2 linked regions of the Homo sapiens genome follow. The gene in region 1 interacts genetically with each later gene. Each region holds a gene or a part of one and is shown on either strand. Other genes may lie near its edges. The genes, in order: KCND3 and SERPINE1.

Region 1 (7,000 bases):
TATAGTCTCTCTGAGCCTCAGCTTCTGCATCTTTATAGGGTACAGAATTTTTTCCAACCTTGCAGGGCTGTTGTAAAAACTTAAAGAGATAATATATGCAAAGTTCTTAGTACACTGCTGACATATAGTAGACAATCATATGCTGTTATACTACTAATAAAAAGTAATGAGTAGGTGGCTATCACCATGCCTGTTTTCCTCCACATGGCTATCCTGAAGGATCTCTCTGATGTCATGAGTCCCATCAAGGGGCATCTGAGGGCACTGGGCAGTCAGAGCCACATCAGGAGCTTGACTAGAAGTGGAAGTGAGGTGTCTGGCCATGGGTGAGGTCCCCTTCAGGAAGGTGAAGGGATGGCTAGGGTCAGCCTAAAAGGGATAAAGACGACCTCTTGACAGCACAAGCTCTCCAGTCCATTTTATCTCCAAAATACCCCACTGTGCCAAAAAGCCCACATCTGCCACCTGAGCCAAGAGAAACAAGGTCAAATGACCAAACATTCTTACCCACTCTGGGTGAGCAGCCATTTGAAGAGTGTGTGTGTGTGTGTGTGTGTGTGTGTGTGTGTGGGTTGGAGTGGGAGGAAGGGGCAGGGTGGTTCTGTCAGACAGATAAGAAGTAAAGGGAATGCCCCAATCAAATGTGGCCTTCACAAATGGATGGTGACACCCTTGCTCTTCCCCTTGCTACTCCCTCCCTCTTGTGTGTGGCAGAATGACAAATGTAATCATTTTAAAAGGTCTCGTCACCTGCTCAGTCATTCCCAATAAGCATACGCAGCACTATGGAAAAACCAACACTATTGCCTCTGGGTTTTGGCCAGGAAAAAAAAAAATCAAATCACCAGGACACCACCAACCACACTGTCAAAGACAAAATAAAAAGCTTCATGAATTCTCCATCAGCAATATAACGCTTCCTAGCCTAAGCAAATATAGACCCAGTATATGAATTGTGGAGGGATTTTGCATTAGGCTCCATGGTTTCTAATAGCTGAGGCAGAAACCCCTAAGAAATCTATGTTTCCATAAAGCCACCTTTATTGGCTATAATCCTGCTAGGGTGAAGACTGTAATCTCCTTCCTGAGCCCCCTTCCTCTGATGGAAAGCTTCACATCCCAGCATCATGAATACATTTCTGTGACCTCAGCTGGAGAGGAGACCTCGGAGAGACGGAATTACCATGACCTCACCGAGCACCTGTCCCTCCTTCTGATGATATTGCTGCTTCTGTGTCTGACCACATGATCCATTCAGACCATCTCACAGTCACCCAGGTCATTCAATCACTGACTCAGACTAAAAAGCAAGACTGATACTGCTTTAGAAAGAAAGAATAAACCACGTGCCTTACTGCGAAAAATCCAGGTTCAGAGTCACTTAGAGAAAGTCTGCTCAGAGCTACTGAACGCTTGAGTGTCTGTGGCAGCACAGGAGAAAAGCATAACAAATGGGAAAATGGCCTGCAAAATATACTACAAAGAAAAAATGCAGAAAGGATCCAAAAAGAGTGCTCTTGGTGTCTTCTGGTAATGGACATCTGAACCCTCCGAACTTCTCAACAGTCTCCTCCCTCCCCAACAACTGCCCTGACCTTCTCCCCACGCTGCCCCATATGCGCAAATGCATATACAAATGCAGACATCACCTCACCCCGAGACTTCACACGCACACAAGGCATGGCTGAAAAAAGAATTGGTGACTTAATTTTCTTAGCTCTATAAAACACATGCCCCGACCTCAAAAAGAAAACTCAATTCCCAGCAAGCTACCACCCCCAAACAGATGACTCATGGGCTTTACCCTTCGGATAGAGCAACTTCCCCTGCCCCCAACACTTGGGTAAGGGACTCCCTCCTCCTCTACCCATGGTGACACCATCCAAGGTTTCAGAGGTCATCCAGCTGCCCTCCAACCTCCGTCCTGGTTTCATCCACCAGCGCTGACTTACCCCAGTGTGGTCATGGTGACAATGGTGTACCAAAACGAGGCAGGGATGCTTGTGAACTTGCTGGCCGAGGAGCCCTTCTCGGCATAAAACATCACAGTGGCAAAGATGATGATGGCCATGGTGAGGGAGAAGAGAAGAAAGCCCAGTTCGGAGGCACAGCTCTTCAGTGTGTAGCCCAGGATCCGCAGGCCCTGGGAGTGGCGGGAAAACTTGAAGATCCTGAAGACGCGGAAGACCCGGAGCGTGACGAAGGCGCCGGACACGTCCTCGTTGTTGGTCATGACCAGACCGATGTAGTAGGGCATGATGGCCACCACGTCGATGATGCTCATGACGCTGCGGATGAAGCGGTAGCGGCTGGGAGCCGCGAAGAGCCGCAGGAGGTACTCCACGGTGAAGATCATGACGCACGCCGTGTCCAGGCAGAAGAAGGCCACCGAGTAGCGCTCCCCGCACGGCAGCTCCTTGCTGCCCGGGACCGTGCCGCACGGCACCGTCTCCACCACGTTGGTGATGACCGAGACAGCGATGAAGAAGCCAGTCACGTAGTAGAAGACCAGGGCCAGCGTGCTGGTGTGGGGGTTCTCGAAGGCCCGCCACATGGTCTGGCGGAAGCTGAGCGAGGGCATGGACTCCTGGTTGTTCTCCGAGTCGTTGTCGTCCATGAGCCGCTCGGCGTTCTCCCTCTTGCGGTCCTTGTACTCCTCGTAGCAGCAGTCCCCGATGATCTCCGGGAGGATGCCGTAGAAGGCCAGCTCGTCGTCGTAGGCAGAGATGCACTCGTAGCGCGGGTAGTGCAGCTTCCCCGTGCGGTAGAAGTTGAGCACGCAGCGGAACACCTCGGGGTCCCGGTCGAAGAAGTACTCCTTGGTGTCCTCGTTGAAGAAGAACTCCTTCTCCGTGCTGCCCAGCAGGGTGTCCGGGTAGCGCTCCAGCGTGGTCCTCCAGGTCTGGAACCTCCGCCCACTCACGTTGAGGACAATCAGCTCATCCTGCCGCTTGTTCTTGTCGGCCGGGGCCAGGGGCATGGGGCAGTTGGCCACCGGCATCCACCCGATGGCCGCAGCCCGGGCAAAAGGCAGCCAGGCCGCAACTCCGGCCGCCATGGTGACTCCAGCTCTTGGGCCGGCAGCCGCGCGGACGCTAGGCACACCAGCTTGGAGTTAGTTCAGCAAACCCTGGGAGACAGGAGGGGAGAGAGAGAAGCGGTGAGTCCATATCGACTGGCAGGTAAGAAATGGGACACAGGAAAGGATCACTGGTGAGTGAAACGGCCAAAGTCTCCAGGGCAGATTAATAAAACTGAAATCCCCACCACAGAGAGGGGACTTGATTCTTTGCCATCCAGACACTGGGAGAACACCTAGCTCCTGGAGCTCGGCAGGGTGGGATCGCCAGATGTTGCTGACTGCCTGACAAATCGTCAAGCTCCAAGAGGGCTCAAGAGCATTTGGAGGGAAGGCCTCTTTAGCAGGAAGATCTGGCAAGACGTGGGTAATAATCAGCTCTGAAAGGTTATGGCGTTATTACCAATTTAAATTGGGAGAGGGTAGATGAGTTCTCATTAAATGAATTTAAAAGTGGGATAAACATGCTAATTTTTATTTCACTCTTTCACCCACTGGGGTAATCAGGAACGGGGTGTAGATGAGTGAGATCAGGTAAACAATTCTTTCTACTCCTCCCTAGTGAGGAAGAGGCTGGGGCTGCCCAAGTCCAGAAAATTCTCTGAGATGGCAGGTGACCACCAGGATTGGTGAGGTTCTGTCCCCAACTCCCATGGAGAAGGCTCTCCCTGGCAAAGTGCTACTCTGAGGGACACTTAGCCCCTACTCCTTGCCCTAGCAACCTAGTATCAAATTTTTCCCCTCAGACCCTCAGAGCCATGATGGAAAGACGTGGGAAGGGTTGTGAGGCTGGGCAGGGTCTCTTTCCCTGCTCTGTGAAGGGCGTCTTGGCTTCTTGGTTCACCTGACTTCCATGCATCGTCTCTCTCCCTCCCCAGAAGAAGCCGATCCGCGCTCACTGCCGTCCCTAGATTCCTCTCCTCCCATCTCCATCTGCCCACCATCCATAACTCCCTCAGGTTATATAACAACACTCCTTCCCATACCAGCCTCTCTCACCTGGTCCCCACTCCACCCTCAGAGATTTTTCCAGAGCCAGGCTACCCTGTCCCTTCACCTCTCTAAACCACACTGCATAAGCACTTCCCCATTACCTGTGTGGACAGAGGGAGCAATGGCACGGAGAATTATATTTGGCTTTGGGAAGCAGATTTACCTTCCCAAATCTGGCTTTTTAAAGATGATAGTGAAATCACTCTGCAGTCCCCAAATGTATACCATCTGTGGGAAGGCATGTGGTGACACGGAAACACACGTAACAGAAATTGGAAATTGTTTGGGGTTGACACACTCATCTCCACTAATCCTAAACTGATCACACAGAACAAATCCTAACTTGGAATTATTTGGGCCCTCTGGAATTCAGCTGCTGTGATTCTAAGTTTAAATAAACGAGGAAGAGGTGAGTCTTGGAAAATTTTTTCTGTTACACGAAGACTTGTAATGGGAGTCGATCTTCATCTCTCCCTATAAACCTGCTTCACCTTCTCCTGACTCCCAACTCTTTGAGTTTTTTCAGATCTCTACCTCCCTCAAACTCCTGAGCTGCCACTGGACTTTTCTGCTCAGATGCCTCTGAAGTGGACAGGTTTAAACAGAACCTGCCTCCTTGTAAAAAGCTGCTGTTCGCCTTTTCTTCATGACGTCCCTAACTGCAGGGCTGTCACCTTGACCATTTTTCTCTAAAGAGTTGCCAAATAATAGGCAATAGTTCTTACTGCCCTCATGAAGGCCCAAACTCCCTCTGGCCTCCTTCCCACGGGCCTTCTTGTCTCTCACTCTCACACCCCACCCGGTTTCTCCTATTCCCCTGAAATCCATTCTGCTCAGTGTTATCTCCCTAAAGCAAGGTTCTGATTGTATTTTACCCCACGACCTACAAAATAAAGTCCAAACTCCTTGGCCTGGCATTCCAGAATTCCCACAAATAGATCCTAGCTTCATACTCCAGCCCAATGGCCCAGGCACCCATCCTAGTATCCAGCAATAAGACCAAGACCTGTTCATGGACAGACCCTGGGGAGGTCTGCCTCTGGACCACTCCTCCCTCTCATGAGAATATCCTTCCCCTGGACCCCTCCTATTAGAATCCTACCTATTCATCACTCTCTCTGTGATGCTTCCTCCTCTCCTCACTATGAGATTCTCTTCTTCCTTTGGGCTCTTGACTCGTTGTTTGCCCCTCTTCCCTAGCACCTATCACCCCGCAGCTAGGATTACACACACTTTATATACATCTTAATTAATAGTAATGACTAACAATTGAGCACTTACGCTATGCAAGGCATTACACTGTCTCCCATGGATTATCTCATTTAACCCTCACAGCAACCCTAGGAAGAAGAGTCTGTTGTGTCCCCCATTTCATAGATAAGGAAAGCTAAAGCTTACTGAGACATAGCAGTCTGACAACCCCAAAGTGGCAGAATAGGGATTCCATCTCAGGCAGTCTGCTGAGGGCTGATGGTGTGCCAGGCACAGTACCACACACTTACATGGAGCGTCTCAAGAGATCCCACCGACAACCCTGAGGGGTAGACACCACTGTAGGCCATGTTTTGCCCACAAAAGAAAGATGAAGCATAAGGAGTTGTAATAATTGTCTAAAGGATGTAATAAGTAGGCGGCGCCATTAAACCCAGGCAGTCTCAATGTGGAGTTCAAGAGTACAGCCAGACCACTTCCCAACTTTCCCTATCCCACACTAAGCTCTTTCGGGCAAAGGCCGAGATGCCTCCACTTTTGTATCACAACCCAGGAGGCAGCATAGTGAACTGCATCAGTAGGTGCTCGAGCTGGGACCCCTGGTTTTATATGTGCCATTTTTTTTCCCATCAACTTTACTCTATGCCTTGCTAATATATTTCAGGGGTTGCCAAGGGTGAGCGTTCTTTCTCCAGAGTAAAATCTGAAGACAGATCTGAATCAGAAGAATCCAATTCAAGTATCTGCCTCTGACTCACTCAGTCGAGTTTTCTAAAGAAGCCAATCTCTGCCTCAGTTTCCCCATCTGCATGCTAAAGGAAATTGTCACAGGTCCCTTCTCTCCCTAATAAAGGGAGGTTGAGTCAGATGCTGCAGAAGACAATAGGAATGACAATGACATTTCCCGTAAGCGTCACTGCTCAGAGAACAGAAAAACAGCACAGGCCTGATGAGCTGATTACTGGAACTGAGGAACTGAGGAACTGAGGAAAGAATGGAGGTCGTTCATGCATGGCAGTGGGTAATCCACATGCTACTGATAGAAGAGTCAGGAACACATCCTGCATTGTATTTCTTTCTAGAAGAAATTTACCCTTCTAACTATACTTTGTTTAGGATTAGGAGACTTAGTAGTTCCTCAGCATGCACTTAGCTAGGATTTATTTCTAAGGGGCAAGGGATGTTTGAGAAGCAAGCTCACAAGTTCAACTCTGTTCCAATTCAGAGTTGGTTAACATTTATTGAACACTGACAATGCTCTGGACACTGTCTGAGACACTTTTACACACAACATTTAATTTATTCCCACTAAAATCCTATGATAAAGGCTTTTCTGCCCAAAGGTTACAGGTAAGGAGAAGGAAGCTCAGAAGTCTCTTTCAAAGTGGCTAAGTTCTGTGTATATGGGAGCTGACAATTTTCAAACAGACCATTGATCACCTCACTGCCAAATGGCTTTCCTGATCTAGGTGTTGCCCAATACTGATGTTCCCAAGAGAAGACAGCAAGATGCAGAGATTCCTTTCCCTGTCTTCCCCAGGCAGCAATGAGCAAGGGCTCATGAGGCCTTGCAATTCCAGTTTCAGTCCCATCCTCAATTTGTGAAAGCAAGCCATGATCACCCTCTGGGCCTCAGAGTCTTCCTCTGTAAAATGAGAAGAATTGGACAGGAACATGACAAAAGACCCTTTGGCTCAAATGATCCCTGATTCCACT
Region 2 (15,977 bases), on another chromosome or scaffold:
TTTCTCAAAACAAACAGGAACAACAACAAAGAACAGAATGTGTCCAGAGAAAGGCGTAAAGAGAGACACAAGAATGTAGAGAATGAGGAACGAGTTCTGGTAAAGATGAACGAAAGTGAATCAGAGTCAGATAAGCCACATATGTGGGTAAAGAGAAGTGGATGGAGGGATGGAATCTGGCCAGTGGCCTGGAGGCACCCTGCAGGCCTGCACTACCTCATCAGCCTGACGTAATCAGCTCCATGTTCACATCTACCCCAGGAGCCCGGTGCTCCACCATTCCCTGCCATTGAAATTCCCCTTGGTGACCACACTGGGGGCACATTCCTTTTCTCTTTTTTTTTTTTTTTTTTTTGAGACAGAGTCTCACTCTGTTGCCCAGGCTGGAGTGCAGCAATGCAATTACGGCTCACTGCAGCCTCAAACTCCTGGACTCAAGTGACTCTCCTGTCTTAGCCTCCCAAGAAGCTGGGACTACAGGCACATGCCACCATGCTTGACTCATTTATTTATTTTTTGTAGAGGTTGGGGGGGGGGGTCTCCCTGTGTTGCCCAGGCTGGTCTCGAACTCCTGGCCTCAAGCAATCCTGCCACCTTGGCTTCCTAAAGTGTTGGGATTACAGGCATGAGCCACTGTGCCCGGCCAGGAAGGCTCATTCTTGCCTGATGGTGAAAGGACATTTGGAATACCCACATTACAAAAGACCCAGCACTAAGTGCCCTCAGGAAATAAGACACTTTGATGGCCACATAAGTTTAAATACAGAAATAACTGTAAGACAAGGGAGAATGCAAATATATAAAAGTGATAAAAGCTAAAAATTAGCTGGGTGTGGTCGTGCATGCCTGTGGTCCCAGCTGCTCAGGAGGCTGAGGTGAGAGGATTGTTTGAGCCCAGGAGTTGGAGGCTGCAGTGAGCCATGATCACACAACTGCACTCCAGCCTGGGCAACAAAGTGAGACCCTATCTTAAAAAAAAAAAAAAAAAATAGACTGGGCGCGGTGGCTCATGCCTGTAAACCCAGCACTTCGGGAAGCTGAGGTGGGAAGATCAGTTGAGCTCAGGAGTTTGAGACCAGCCTGGCCAACATGGTGAAACCCTGTCTCTACTAAAAATCCAAAAATTAGTTGGGCATGTTTGTGCAGGCCTGTAGTCCCTGCTACTCAGGAGGCTGAGGCACGAGAATTGCTTGAACCCGTGAGGTGGAGGTTGCAGTGAGCTGAGATCGCGTCACTGCATTCTAGCTTGGGTGACTGAGTGAGACTCTGTCTCAAAAAAAAAAAAAGATAAAATTGGCTATGGTAGAGCATACATTTTTTTTAAGTGATTAAAGCATTATAGGTGCCATAGAGGAATCGATGAGAGATGGGAGATGGAGGCTGCAGGGGCCTAGCCTGGAAGAGTGGGTCGAGCTCAACTCCATTTTGGTAAATCAAGTCTCCTTCCTCCCTGGTATGCTCAGAAAATAAGGATACACTTGGGACAAAAGCGGGGTACATCCATGACCTGCAGCCCAGAGGGGAATATCTTCCTGGGATCTGAAACCTGCAAAGTCAGCCAATGGGAGCGTGTCAGGACCAGGGAGACAGCAGAAGGATCTGGTATGAAACAGATGAGAGGGGCTGCCAGGCATCCCCTCGGGTAAGCAGCCAGCCCACTTCCGAGGCATTTAACGCCCACGCTCCGCTAAATGCTGAGAGACGTAAAAACAAACACCTCAAACATCCATCCCTCAAGGAGCTTGCATTATATCAAAATGAACAGCTCAGACTGTCTGGGTTCCTGTCCTGGCTCTGCTGCCCACCAAGAGCGGCTGCCACAAAGGAGAACATTTGTTCTTGCCAAATGTGTTGGACATTTGGCAGATGACGTTTTATGTAATTCTCATTGCAACCTTGAAAGATGGGAATCGTTATCTGTCTTTTACAAATAAGAATACTGAGGCTGTGATCCCTAAATCATAGGGAAGGAAGGAAGGGAGGGAGGGGGAGGGGAGGAAGAGGAGGAGGAAGAGAAGGAGAAGGAGAAGGGATTAAGTTTTACCTAGTCACATAGCCAATGTCAGATTCCTAACTAGTGGCCGGGTCTGTCTGATCCAATGATCACTATTCTCTCATTTATGGTGTAGTCACTGTGTGGCTTCAACCACAGTGGACCTCTCTGGACCTAAGTGCCCTCACTTGTAAATTAAAAGAACTGGGTTAGGGCCAGGCATGGTGGCTCATGCCTGTAACCACAGCACTTTGGGAGGCTGAGGCAGGTCGGTCACTTGAGCTCAGGAGTTCAAGAACAGCCTGGGCAACGTGGCAAAACCCCGTCTCTACCAAAAATACAAAAAATTAGCCAGGTGTCATGGTGTACATCTGTGGTCCCAGCTACTGGGAGGCTGAGGTGGGAGGATCACTTAATCCCGGGAGGTAGAGGCTGCAGTAAGCTGAAATGGCACCACTGCACTCCAACCTTGAGCCCAGGAGTTTGAGACTAGCCTGGGCAACATAAAGAGACCCTCATCTCTGAAAAAAAAAAAATTAGGCGGGGCACAGTGGCTCACATCTGTAATCCCAGCACTTTGAGAGGCTGAGGAAGGCGGATCACTTGAGGTCAGGAGTTCAAGACCAGCCTGGCCAACATGGTGAAACCCCGTCTCTACTAAAAATACAAAAATCAGCTGGGCGTGATGGCAGATGCCTGTAATCCCAGCTACTTGGGAGGCTGAAGCACTATAATTGCTTGAGCCTGGGAGGTAGAGGTTGCAGTGAACTGAGACCACACCATTGCACTCCAGCCTGGGCAAGAAGAGCGAAACTTTGTCTCAAAAAAAAAAAAAAAAAAAAAAAAAAATTGGCGGGGCATGGTGGTGCACACCTGTAGTCCCAACTAGCAACTCCTCAGGAGGCTGAGATGGGAGGATCTCTTGAGCCTGGGAGGTCGAAATGCAGTGAGTCATGACTGTGCCAAGGCTGGGAGCCATGATTGTGCCACTGCACTCCCACCTGGGCAACAGAACGTGGCCCCCACTCAAAAAAAAAATGCAATTGTGGACAAGCAAGGGCTACATTGGGTAAGGCAGCACCAGTTAGAGTGTTAGGGAGTTTAAAGAGAAATGACCGGCCAGGGGCTGGCAGGGGAGAGGGGATACAGCAGGAGAGGAGGGGGAAGTCAGTCACAGAGCCAGGGTAAGGAAGGGCCCCTGGACAGGCTGTCCCAGAGCCACGATCTTAAATAAAAGGCAGTGGAGGGCCAGGCGCAGTGGCTCACGCCTATAATCCCAGCACTTTGGAAGGCCGAGGTGGGTGGATCATGAGGTCAGGAGATCGAGACCAGCCTGGACAACATGGGGAAACTAGTCTCTACTAAAAATACAAAAATTAGCCAGGCATGGTGGCGCATGACTATAATCCCAGCTACTCGGGAGGCTGGGGCAGGAGAATCGCTTGAACCTGGGAGGCGGAGGATGCAGTGAGCCAAGATCACACCTCCGCACTCCAGCCTGGGCAACAGAGCAAGACTCCATCTCAAAAAAAAAAAAAAAAAAGGCGGTGGAGACACCCAGCACTGGTTCCCTCCTAGAGAAGGGGAGAGAGCCGAGCCCAAACACAGGCTATTTTTGGAGTTGTGTTGTTTGGAGAGCAACCAAGCCAGAAATAGTGCTGTTAGCAAGACCCTGCCTTCTCCAACCCCCGGCTCTCCCAGTGAAATCACCAGGAATCAGGGAGGCTGGGCCCCACATTCCAGGGAGCCTGTGTAACAGGCAGTGCTCTCTTCCCCACCGGAAGGGCTTGGGAGCTGAGCATTTGACTGTAAAAGGGATTCTGGGATTCCAGAGGGACAGAGGGACTGAGTCAGAGAGAGAGAGAGAGAGAGAGTGGAAATGGGGGGCAACCTCCTGCAGCGGAGGAGAGGGGACAGGAGGGAAGGCTCGGGGAAGAAAGGGTAGGCAGGAGGTCAGAGAGAAGGGAGCAGGAAGCGGGAGGCTCAGAGAGAGAAAGGGAAAGTGAAAAAGAAAGCGGGGAAGACAGAAGCAAAGAGGAAGAGCAGAGATCGGGCCAGAAGGCGGGAGGTCAGGGGGCGATGGGTGGTGGGAAGGCCAGTGTCCACCCAGGGCCCACCAGTGGGTGGGGGACAGAGGGACAGTCATGGAAAATCTGAGTGTGATCTACAGTCACGAACCACCTGCTCAGGGACAGATGGAGACATCTTTCCCAGTAGCTGGAATCAGAACTTTCCCCTGAAATCCACAGCCCGGTAACTCACTCTCTTATCTCTGACCCTCCGGAAGCCAGAGATCTAGCTATTTCATCAGCATGGACTTTTCTTTCTGTGCCCGTGTGACCCCTTACAAAAGAGCTCAAGCTGGAAAGAGAGGATTGGATCAAGAAAGAGAGAACTTAGGATTCAGGGGAAAAGGGGAAAGTGATAACCCCTTGAGTCAGATTCTGAGAAGAGGGTTTCTCTGAGAGGTCGGTGGGGAGCAGCCCGCAGGCAGCTGGACCCTGGTATGGAAGGGCTCGGCTCCTAAGGCAGGTAAGAGAAGGCAGGGCCACGTGCATGAAGTAGAGGCAGGGGTCATGGCCAAGTCTGGGTTCTTTTTATTTATTTATTTTTTTGAGACAATCTTGCTCTTTCGCTCAAGCTGGAGTGCAGTGGTGCAATCTCAGCTCTCTGCAACCTCCACCTCTTGGGTTCAAGAGATTCTCCCACCTCAGGCTCCTGAGTAGCTGGGACTACAGGTACGTGCCGCCATGCCTGGCTAATTTCTGTACTTTTTTTTTTTTAGTAGAGACGGGGTTTCACTCCAAGTCTGGGTTCTAGAGTAGCTAGGCAGCCCCAGCTCATCAGAGTCAATGGAGAAATCGGAAACTTCACATGGACCCGATAACACAGGTTTTGCCTCAGTTTCTAATACACATCTTCCCTATGCCTACAAGTTTCCACCGATTTGGGAAAAGACCTCTTAGTAAGTCAGCCACTTCTGAGTCCAAAGTAAAACGCTCCCCACCCTCCACCCCAATCAGGACTAGAGCTGCTCCCCAGCTCTCCCGTGCCCAAGGATGGAATGTCCTTTTTGCTCTTTGCTTTGTCCTTTGAGACAGGGTCTCTCTTTGTCACCCAGGCTGGAGTGCAGTGTTGCAATCATAGCTCACTCCAGCCTTGAGCTCCTAGGCTCAAGCGATCCTCCTACCTCAGCTTCCCATGTAGCTGGGACCATAGGCACACGCCACCACACTGGGCTAATTTTTTTTTTTTTTTTGGTAGAGATGGGATCTCACTGTGTTGCCCAGGCTGGCTCAAATTCCTGGGCTCAAGTGATCTTCCTGCCTCAGCCTCCCCAAAGACTGGGATTACAGGTGTGAGCCACCACACCCAGCAGGGGTGTCTATTTTGGATTGGCATCAGGATCATCCACCCAATCTATGAGTGGGGACTAAATTGGTGACTGCTCCTGCAGAGCTCTGGCTGTCCACAGAAAACAGCAGAGACCTGGCAAGGTATGGGACAATGGCTCCTGGTATGACAGGCAGAGGAAGGGATGGAGGCTAAGCTGCAGCCTGGAGAGGCTGGCGTCAGACACCTGAGGAGGCCACATCTAGCTATGTCTAGACCCATTGAACTTTCAAGTCTTCGAGGCTTGGTACTGCCTGATCCCTGTTCCCCTCTGATCCTTAAGGTCAGAGAGCAAAGCCTTGCGGGGTACTTTTTTTTTTTTTTTTTTTGAGACAGATTCTTGCTCTGTCACCCAGGCTGGAGTGCAATAGCATGATCTCGGCTCACTGCAACCTCCACCTCCCAGGTTCAAGCGATTCTCCTGCCTCAGCCTCCCAAGCAGCTAGGATTACAGGCACGCACCACCATGCCTAGCTGATTTTTATATTTTTAGTAGAGATGGGGTTTCATCATATTGGCCGGGCTGGTCTTGAACTCCTGGCCTCAAGTGATCCACCTGCCTTGGCCTCCCGAAGTGCTAGGATTACAGGTGTGAGCCACCATGCCCTGTCTTGGGGTACTTTTGAGGACAAGAGTTAAGTTCGGGACTGGGCATGTTGGCTTATACACTTTGGGAGGCAAAGGTGAGAGGATTGTTCCAGCCCAGGAATTTGAGACCAGCCTGGTCAACATAGCAAGACTCTGTCTCTATAAGAAAAAATAATAATTAGCTGGGCGTGGTGGTGCTTGCCTGTAGTCCCCGATACTTGCTTGAGCCCAGGAGTTCAAGTCTGCAGTGAGCTATGATCACATGACTGCACTCCAGCCTTGGTGACAGAGTGAGACCCTGTCTCCAAAAAAAAAAAAAAAAAGAGATGGGTTTGGGGCTGGACTTGTCTTCTTCCAAGAGGTCAGGGCAGTTGCTTCTTCCTCACCGCTAACCACACTCTCAGGGACTCCAAACCACAACTAAGAAAAGGAAAAAGACATAAACAAGAGGCAGTTTCACAGGAAGAGTTCTCCTAATGTGTCTGTGAGCCTAACTTTCCGACTGTGGTTCTCCTCTCTTTCCCTGCCAGCTGTGAGAAAACAAAGCCTAAGGCAGATTAAAAAGCAGGAGGGCTGCTCAGTGTGGTTGCCCTTGGTATCTGTTTACTGAAAAAATCCAAAACAAACATCCGACGCTTCCACCCACTGAAACTTCCTGTGACTCTGCTATCAGCTGTTGCCATGGATTCTCCCAACTGAACCCCACCACATACACTAAACCCAACAGTCCGTGGACCCCAAGTATGCCATCTCTCCAATACAGGACCCCCTGGGCAGCACCCTGGCCACCCTTCCATCCACAACATCCAGACCACACGGCCAAGGGCACCTGACCCTGTCAAAACCCCAAATCCAGCTGGGCGCGGTGGCTCATGCCTGTAATCCCAGCATTTGGGAGGCCGAGGCAGCCGGATCACGAAGTCAGGAGTTCGAGACCAGCCTGACCAACATGGTGAAACCCCGTCTCTACTAAAATACAAAAATTAGCCGGGCGTGGTGGTGCACACCTGTAATCCCAGCTACTCGGGAGGCTGAGGCAGGAGAACCACTTGAACCTGGGAGGCGGAGATTGCAGTGAGCCAAGATAGTGCTACTGCACTCAGCCTGGGCAACAAAATAAGACTCCGTCTCAAAACAGAAAAACAAAAAAAACAAAAAACAACAACAACAACAAAATCCACTAGTCTAGCCCTACATGCTCACCCACTGCTAGCCAGTTTCCACCCTCTACAGCAGAGGTACCCAACCTCTGGGCCAGGGGCCCGTACTGGTCCATAGCCTGTTAGGAACCAGGCTGCATAACAGGAGGTGAGTGGCAGGTGAGTGAAATTTCATCTGTAGTTACAGCCACTCCTCATCACTCGCATTACCACCAGAGCTCCACTCCCTGTCAGATCAGCGGCGGCATTAGATTCTCATAGGAGCTCGAACCCTATTCTAAACTGTTCATGTGAGGGATCTAGGTTGCAAGCTCCCTATGAGAATCTAATGCCTGATGATCTGTCACGGTCTCCCATCACCCCTAGATGGGACCATCTAGTTGCAGGAAAACAAGCTCAGGGCTCCCACTGATTCTACACGATGGTGAATTGTGGAATTATTTCATTATATATATTACAATGTAATAATAATAGAAATAAAGCACACAATAAATGTAATGTGCTTGAATCATCCCGAAACCATCCCACCCTGGTCTGTGAAAAAATTGTCTTCCATGAAACCAGTCCCTGGTGCCAAAAACGTTGAGGACCACTGCTCCACAGAATCTATCGGTCACTCTTCCTCCCCTCACCCCCTTGCCCTAAAAGCACACCCTGCAAACCTGCCATGAATTGACACTCTGTTTCTATCCCTTTTCCCCTTGTGTCTGTGTCTGGAGGAAGAGGATAAAGGACAAGCTGCCCCAAGTCCTAGCGGGCAGCTCGAAGAAGTGAAACTTACACGTTGGTCTCCTGTTTCCTTACCAAGCTTTTACCATGGTAACCCCTGGTCCCGTTCAGCCACCACCACCCCACCCAGCACACCTCCAACCTCAGCCAGACAAGGTTGTTGACACAAGAGAGCCCTCAGGGGCACAGAGAGAGTCTGGACACGTGGGGAGTCAGCCGTGTATCATCGGAGGCGGCCGGGCACATGGCAGGGATGAGGGAAAGACCAAGAGTCCTCTGTTGGGCCCAAGTCCTAGACAGACAAAACCTAGACAATCACGTGGCTGGCTGCATGCCCTGTGGCTGTTGGGCTGGGCCCAGGAGGAGGGAGGGGCGCTCTTTCCTGGAGGTGGTCCAGAGCACCGGGTGGACAGCCCTGGGGGAAAACTTCCACGTTTTGATGGAGGTTATCTTTGATAACTCCACAGTGACCTGGTTCGCCAAAGGAAAAGCAGGCAACGTGAGCTGTTTTTTTTTTCTCCAAGCTGAACACTAGGGGTCCTAGGCTTTTTGGGTCACCCGGCATGGCAGACAGTCAACCTGGCAGGACATCCGGGAGAGACAGACACAGGCAGAGGGCAGAAAGGTCAAGGGAGGTTCTCAGGCCAAGGCTATTGGGGTTTGCTCAATTGTTCCTGAATGCTCTTACACACGTACACACACAGAGCAGCACACACACACACACACACATGCCTCAGCAAGTCCCAGAGAGGGAGGTGTCGAGGGGGACCCGCTGGCTGTTCAGACGGACTCCCAGAGCCAGTGAGTGGGTGGGGCTGGAACATGAGTTCATCTATTTCCTGCCCACATCTGGTATAAAAGGAGGCAGTGGCCCACAGAGGAGCACAGCTGTGTTTGGCTGCAGGGCCAAGAGCGCTGTCAAGAAGACCCACACGCCCCCCTCCAGCAGCTGAATTCCTGCAGCTCAGCAGCCGCCGCCAGAGCAGGACGAACCGCCAATCGCAAGGCACCTCTGAGAACTTCAGGTAGGAGAAAAGCAAACTCCCTCCAACCTCTTACTTCGGGCTTAAGGCAGAGAACTCGCCTCCCCAGAATCTCCTCCCTCCATGATCCCCCGCTATTCCTCTATTTTCTTTTCCTCGGACCTGCAGCCTTGGGTCGACCCTGCCCTAGGGGTGACTGCAGGAGAGCAGGGAGGATGGTCAGGCGTCACCAACAACCCCATCACCCAGTAACAAGAACCTTGACTCTCTCAGTCCCTCTGCATCAAGACACTTACCCATTTCCCACCTCATGCCTGCTAACTTGAATGAAACAATCGCTGGGAAAGCATTAAGAGAATTAAGGCTGGGCACTGTGGCTCATGCCTGTAATCCCAGCACTTTGTGAGGCTGAGGCAGGCAGATAACTTGAGCCCAGGAGTTTGAGACCAGCCTGGGCAACATGGCAAAACCCTGCTCTCCCAAAAAAATACAAAAATTAGCTGGGCGTGCTGGTGTGCCTGTATTCCCAGCTACTTGGGAGGCTGAGGTGGGAGGATTGCTTCAGCTGGGGAGGCGGAGGCTGCAGGGAGCCAAGACTGAGCCATTGCACCCAGCCTGGGTGACAGAGCAAGACCCTGTCTCTAAAAATGAATGAAAGGAAGGAAGAAAGAGAGAGAAAGAGAGAGAGGAAAGAAGGAAGGAAGTAAAGAAGAAAGAAAGAAAGAAAGAGGAAAGAGGAAGAAAGAAAGAAAAGAAAGAAAAGAAAAGAAAGCAAATTTAAAGCTTATGCAAATCAAAGATGTTGTGATAATTGATAATTGAGTCTGGGCTAAATTCCCCCTGGGCTGCAAAGGCAGAGAGTGGTAATGACTTCTCACCTGCTTTTCTTCTAAGGCTTTTTTACGGGACACAGAGGGAAGGGAGATGGACTGGATTCCAAGATTCCCACAGGGCAAGATGGGCGAAGACTCCCTGCCACTGCCCGGGGATAAGTCAGTCTGAGTGAGACGGAGTGGGATGGGCTTAGAACCTGAACATGTCATGGTCTCTTCCTGCACCTTGCCCTAGTGTTCACTTACCACCTGCTTGCAGGAAACAAGAAGAGCAGGGCCCACAGCTGGCCAGCTCCCCTCCCCTCCCGCCTGTCTTCCAGAACGATTCCTTCACCAGCCCTCTTTCCATTGCTCTAGGATGCAGATGTCTCCAGCCCTCACCTGCCTAGTCCTGGGCCTGGCCCTTGTCTTTGGTGAAGGGTCTGCTGTGCACCATCCCCCATCCTACGTGGCCCACCTGGCCTCAGACTTCGGGGTGAGGGTGTTTCAGCAGGTGGCGCAGGCCTCCAAGGACCGCAACGTGGTTTTCTCACCCTATGGGGTGGCCTCGGTGTTGGCCATGCTCCAGCTGACAACAGGAGGAGAAACCCAGCAGCAGATTCAAGCAGCTATGGGATTCAAGATTGATGGTGAGCCACGGGACACCAGGGGAGGTGGGTGGCATGCAGAACAGACCTACCAGAAGCCAAGGAAAGGCTGGCTCTGGCTTAGCCGAGCCAAGCCCCATACAGCTGTGCTGCAGGGGCCACCCCATCTTCTTCCCACTACACTCCAAGTCACTGGACCCTTGAATCTCCAAGGGTGTCTGACCAGTAGATTTACCGCTTATTCACCACCGTGTGATCTTAACCTCGTTAAGTTTGCCCATCTACAAAATGAGGATTATTTGCTGTCCTAAAGAATTCATGAGCCGGGCGCGGTGGCTCAAACGCCTGTAATCCCAGCACTTTGGGAGGCCAAGGCGGGCGGATCATGAGGTCAGGAGATCAAGACCATCCTGGCTAACACAGTGAAACTCCATCTCTACTAAAAATACAAAAAAAATTAGCCAGGCGTGGTGGCAGGCGCCTGTAGTCCCAGCTACTCGGGAGGCTGAGGCAGGAGAATGGCATGAACCCAGGAGGCAGAGCTTGCAGTGAGCTGAGATCGTGCCACTGCACTCCAGCCTGGGCGACAGAGAGAGACTCCGTCTCAAAAAAAAAAAATAAAAGAATTCATGGAATTACACTTGTGAAATACTTAGCATAGCCATCACTATAGGAAAAAAATCTAAGGCCAGGCACAGTGCCTCATGCCTGTAATCTCAGCACTTTCGGAGTTTGAGGCAGGAGGATCACCCAAGGCTAGGAGTTCAAGGCCAGCCTGGGCAATACGGTGAAACCCCGTCTCTAATAAAAATATAAAAATTAGTCTGATGAGGTGGTGCACCTGTAATCCCAGCTACTCAGGAAGCTGAGACACAAGAATCACTTTAACCCGGGAGGTGGAGGTGGCAGTGAGCTGAGATCACACCATTGCACTCCAGCCTGGGTGACAGAGTGAGACCTGTCAAAAAAAAGAAAAGAAAGAGAGAGAGAGAGAGAAGAGAGAGAAAGAAAGAAGAAGAAAGAAAGAAAGAGAGAGAGAGAAAGAAAGAAAGAAACAAAGAAACAAAGAAAGAAAGGAAAAGAAAAAAAAAACTAAGGCCAGGCAAGGTGGCTTATGACTGTAATTTCAGCACTTTGGAAGATTGAGGCAGGAGGATCACTTGAGGCCAGAAGTTCGAGACAAGACTGAGCAACAGGGAGACCCCTGCCTCTACAAAAAAATTTACAAATTAGCCAGATGTGGTGACACATACCTGTAGTCCCAACTACTCAGGAGGCTGAGGTGGGAGGATGGCTTGAGCCCAGGAGCTGGAGGCTGCAGTGAGCTATGATTGTACCACTGCACTTCAGCCTGGGCAACAAAGGGAAGCCCTGTCTGAAAAAAAAAAAAAAAGAAAAAGAAGAAGAAAGAAAATATTTAGGGTTCATCCAGGAGGCAGAGGTTGCAGTAAGCTGACATCGCGCCATTGCACTCCAGCCTGGGAGACAAGAGCAAAACTCCAACTCAAAAAAAAAAAAAAAAAAAAAACAGGAAGAAAATATTTAGGGTTCATAATTTAAGAACAGAGAAAAATATTCTAGCCCAAAGAAAGGGTTGGGATCTGAGACTTTTGAAGAAAGGAAGGAGATACAGAAAAGAGATTTCATCCTGGAATGAAATCTCCCTCCAGAGAGCCCTGGGAAAGCACGGTAGCCCCCATCCATCAGAGTGGAGCCCCTTGTGGGGGAAGTGGGCTCGGCTGGGAACCCTCAATTCAGCATAAGCCTCACATGTCCTCTCCTCTCTGTCCCGGTGCAGACAAGGGCATGGCCCCCGCCCTCCGGCATCTGTACAAGGAGCTCATGGGGCCATGGAACAAGGATGAGATCAGCACCACAGACGCGATCTTCGTCCAGCGGGATCTGAAGCTGGTCCAGGGCTTCATGCCCCACTTCTTCAGGCTGTTCCGGAGCACGGTCAAGCAAGTGGACTTTTCAGAGGTGGAGAGAGCCAGATTCATCATCAATGACTGGGTGAAGACACACACAAAAGGTGAGCAGGCAGGGAAAGGAAACCCATTTCCTGGGCCTCAAGAGAAAGGGAATTTGGAAATAAATCCACATATCCCAGTTGGGTGCAGTAGTTCACACCTGTAATCCCAGCCCAACACTTTGGGAGGTCTAGGCGAGAGGAAGGCTTGAGGCCTGGAGTTTGAGACCAGCCTGGCCAACATAACAAGACCTCATCTCTTCAAAAAATTTAAAAACCAGCCGGGCATGGTGGTGCACACCTGTAGTCCCAGCTACTTGGGAGGCTGAGGTGGGAGGATCACTTGAGTCCAGCAGTTCAAGGCTGCAGTGAGCTATGTTTGCACCACCACACTCCAGCCTGGGTCACAGAACAAGACCTCATCTCTAAAAAACAAACAAAAACCAAATCCACATATCCTAAAAAATGCTCCTTTTCAGCATTCTCTTCTCTATGGACAAAGGGCTGGATGCTTTAAGAACCAAATCTTAGGCTGGGCACGGTGGCTCACGCCTCTAATCCTAGCACTTTGAGAGGCCAAGGCGGGCAGATTGCCTGAGCACAGGAGTTCGAGACCAGCCTGGCCAACATGGTGAAACCCTGTCTCTGTCAAAAATACAAAAAATTAGCCAGGTGTGTTGGCGCATGCCTATAATCCCAGCTGCTCGGGAGGATGAGGTTCAAAGAATCACTTGAACCCGGGAGGCAGAGGCTGCAGTGAGCTGAGATCATGCCACTGCACTCCAGCCTGGGTGACAGAGCAAGACTTTGTCTCCAAAAAAAGGAACTAGACGGGTTCATTTAAACCCCTGACTGCAGCCCTTTGACATACATCCAATTGAGGACTGGGGACTCCGGGAAACATCTAAAAGGCTTAAAAACTTTGTCTAACTTCAGCCGGGCATGGTGGCTCACACCTGTAATCCCAGCACTTTGGGAGGCTAAGGCAGGTGGATCAAAAGGTCAGGAGTTTGAGACGAGCCTGACCAACATGGTGAAACCCCGTCTCTACTAAAAATACAAAAATTAGCCAGGCATGGTGGCAGGCGCCTGTAATCCCAGCTATTCGGGAGGCTGAGGCAGGAGAATTGCTTGAACCCCGGAGACAGAGGTTGCAGCGAGCCGAGATCGCGCCACTGCACTCCAGCCTGGCAATAGAGTGAGACTCCATCTCAAAACAACAACAACAACAACAACAAAATCGTCTAACTTCCTGATCTTCCTGATCATTGATTTTCCCATAGGTATGATCAGCAACTTGCTTGGGAAAGGAGCCGTGGACCAGCTGACACGGCTGGTGCTGGTGAATGCCCTCTACTTCAACGGCCAGTGGAAGACTCCCTTCCCCGACTCCAGCACCCACCGCCGCCTCTTCCACAAATCAGACGGCAGCACTGTCTCTGTGCCCATGATGGCTCAGACCAACAAGTTCAACTATAGTAAGTCCAAGAGCCCCTTCCCCACAGCCCACAGCAACTGCATCTCATTCCTGGGGTCTCCCAAGGAATACCCAAAATGTCACCCTCTGAGGGAGGAAGACCACAGGGAATGCTCCCCTTTAAGGGAGGAGAGACCCTAGAATATACTCCAGCTTTGACAAAGATTTCCCAAGCAGGAGACATCAGGATAATGGGAACAGAAGACAGGAGGTTTATCCCATGAAGGATGAAGAAGCTGAAATCCAGAGATTCCCTCAGGGCCACATTTGTCCACCTGACTCCAGGGTCTCATCTTCGTGTGTTGCTAGTGTGATTACCTGGGGATGAGAAATCCTGCTGGGGGAGTTGAGGTTAAGAGGATGAGGACTCCAGGTGCTGTGGCTCACGCCTGTAATCCCAGCACTTTGGGAGGCCAAGGCAGGTGGATCAGGAGTTTGAGGTCAGGAGTTTGAGACCAGCCTGGCCAACATGGTGAAACCCTGTCTCTACTAAAAATGCAAAAATTAGCCAGGTGTGGTGGCAGGCGCCTGTAATCCCAGCTACTCGGGAGGCTGAGGCAGGAGAATCACTTGAGCCCGGGAGGTGGAGGTTGCAGTGAGCCGAACGAAATTGAGCCACTTCACCCCAGCCTGGGCAAAAGAGTGAAATTCCATTCAAAAAAAAAAAAAAAAAAAAAAGGATGAGGACTGGGATGAACTGGTGGCTGGGTGTGGGGAAAATGGAAGTGAAGGAAGGCCAAAAGAGACAGAGAAGGCCTGGCGCGGCGACTCACGCCTATAATCCCAGCACTTTGGGAGGCTGAGAAGGGGGATTGCTTGAGGCCAGAAGTTGAATACCAGTCTGGGCAGCATAGCAAGACCCTGCCTCTACAAAAAAAAAATTTTTTTTAATTAGCCAGGCTTGGTGACATGCATCTGTAGTCTACTCAAGAAGCTGAGGTGAGGCCAGGCACGGTGGCTCACGCCTGTATTCCCAGCACTTTGGGAGGTCAAGGCGGGTGGATGACCTGAGGTCAGGAGTTCAAGACCAGCCTGGCCAACATGGTGAAACCCCATCTGTATAAAAATACAAAAATTAGCTGGGCATGATAGCAGGTGCCTGTAATTCCAGCTACTCAGGAGGCTGAGGTGGGAGAATCTATTGAACCCGGGAGGGGGAGGTTGCAGTGAGCCGAGATCATGCCATTGCACTCCAGCCTGGGCGACAGAGTGAGACTCCTTCTCAAAACAAACAAACAAACAAACAAACAAAATACAGAAGCTGAGGCGGGAGGAACATTTGAACCGGATTCGGAGGCTGCAGTGAGCTATGATTGCACCACTGCGCTCCAGTCTGTGTGACAGTGAGACCCTGTCTCTTACACACACACACACACACACACACATGCACACACACAGAGAGAGAGAAATTAGAAGATACTGAATTGGCAGAAGAGAAGGGAAATAGAAATTAAAATACTGAATAGGGGAGCAGTGAACAGGGGATACCCAAAAGCCAAGAGCGAGAGAGAGCCTGGCTTCCAGAAATAGTGGAGAAGCCAGGAGAACTAGGTGAAAACCCAGTGCTGGGTTGCCATCAGCGAGAGCTGGAGCCATTTCCAACGAACCATCTTGTCGTCTTCACAGCTGAGTTCACCACGCCCGATGGCCATTACTACGACATCCTGGAACTGCCCTACCACGGGGACACCCTCAGCATGTTCATTGCTGCCCCTTATGAAAAAGAGGTGCCTCTCTCTGCCCTCACCAACATTCTGAGTGCCCAGCTCATCAGCCACTGGAAAGGCAACATGACCAGGCTGCCCCGCCTCCTGGTTCTGCCCAAGTAAGCCACCCCGCTATCTCCCCGACCTACCAACCCCTCTCTCCTGGCTCCCTAAAGTCACCGCCCCCAGGTTGAATTTCCCAGATCTGTGATGCTTGCAGGACATGCATGTGTGGGAGGCTGATGGGAAACTGTGGCCTGGGTTTGATTATGAGTCTTGCAATCATCCCTCCCCCTGTTTCTGCTGGAGGGCAGGGGACAGCTCTTCCTGACCACACCCCCACATTGACTATCCCCAGAATACCCAGCAAAAGCCCCCAAAAGGAGAGTCAGAGAAATGAGGGAGGTGGGGGCCCAATCAGTCCACATCTACTTAGGGTCGCCCCATCAGCACTTCCATCCCCAACCCTTTCAAGTCAACATCCAAACAAAAGAAATCACTTCCAAGGACGGAGCAGCTCAAAGCGCAGCTTCTAGCTGGGGTTCCAAGAAAGCAGATT

What was found.
Region 2: changes in KCND3 (region 1) and SERPINE1 together harm fitness more than expected from each alone (negative genetic interaction), as found in Homo sapiens cells (one study listed by BioGRID).

Annotation. Positions count from the first base shown.
Region 1 is NC_000001.11:111,979,669-111,986,668, forward strand, and holds part of KCND3 (A-type voltage-gated potassium channel KCND3), read right to left. Parts: intron 3,131-7,000; 5' UTR 3,059-3,130; coding exon 1,953-3,058; intron 1-1,952. UniProt on the Homo sapiens protein: Pore-forming (alpha) subunit of voltage-gated A-type potassium channels that mediates transmembrane potassium transport in excitable membranes, in brain and heart. In cardiomyocytes, may generate the transient outward potassium current I(To).
Region 2 is NC_000007.14:101,118,357-101,134,333, forward strand, and holds the start of SERPINE1 (plasminogen activator inhibitor 1 isoform 2 precursor), read left to right. Parts: upstream 1-8,747; 5' UTR 8,748-8,888; intron 8,889-10,036; 5' UTR 10,037-10,037; coding exon 10,038-10,308; coding exon of another isoform or gene 10,309-10,332; intron 10,333-12,064; coding exon 12,065-12,298; intron 12,299-13,518; coding exon 13,519-13,713; intron 13,714-15,338; coding exon 15,339-15,537; intron 15,538-15,977. UniProt on the Homo sapiens protein: Serine protease inhibitor. Inhibits TMPRSS7. Is a primary inhibitor of tissue-type plasminogen activator (PLAT) and urokinase-type plasminogen activator (PLAU).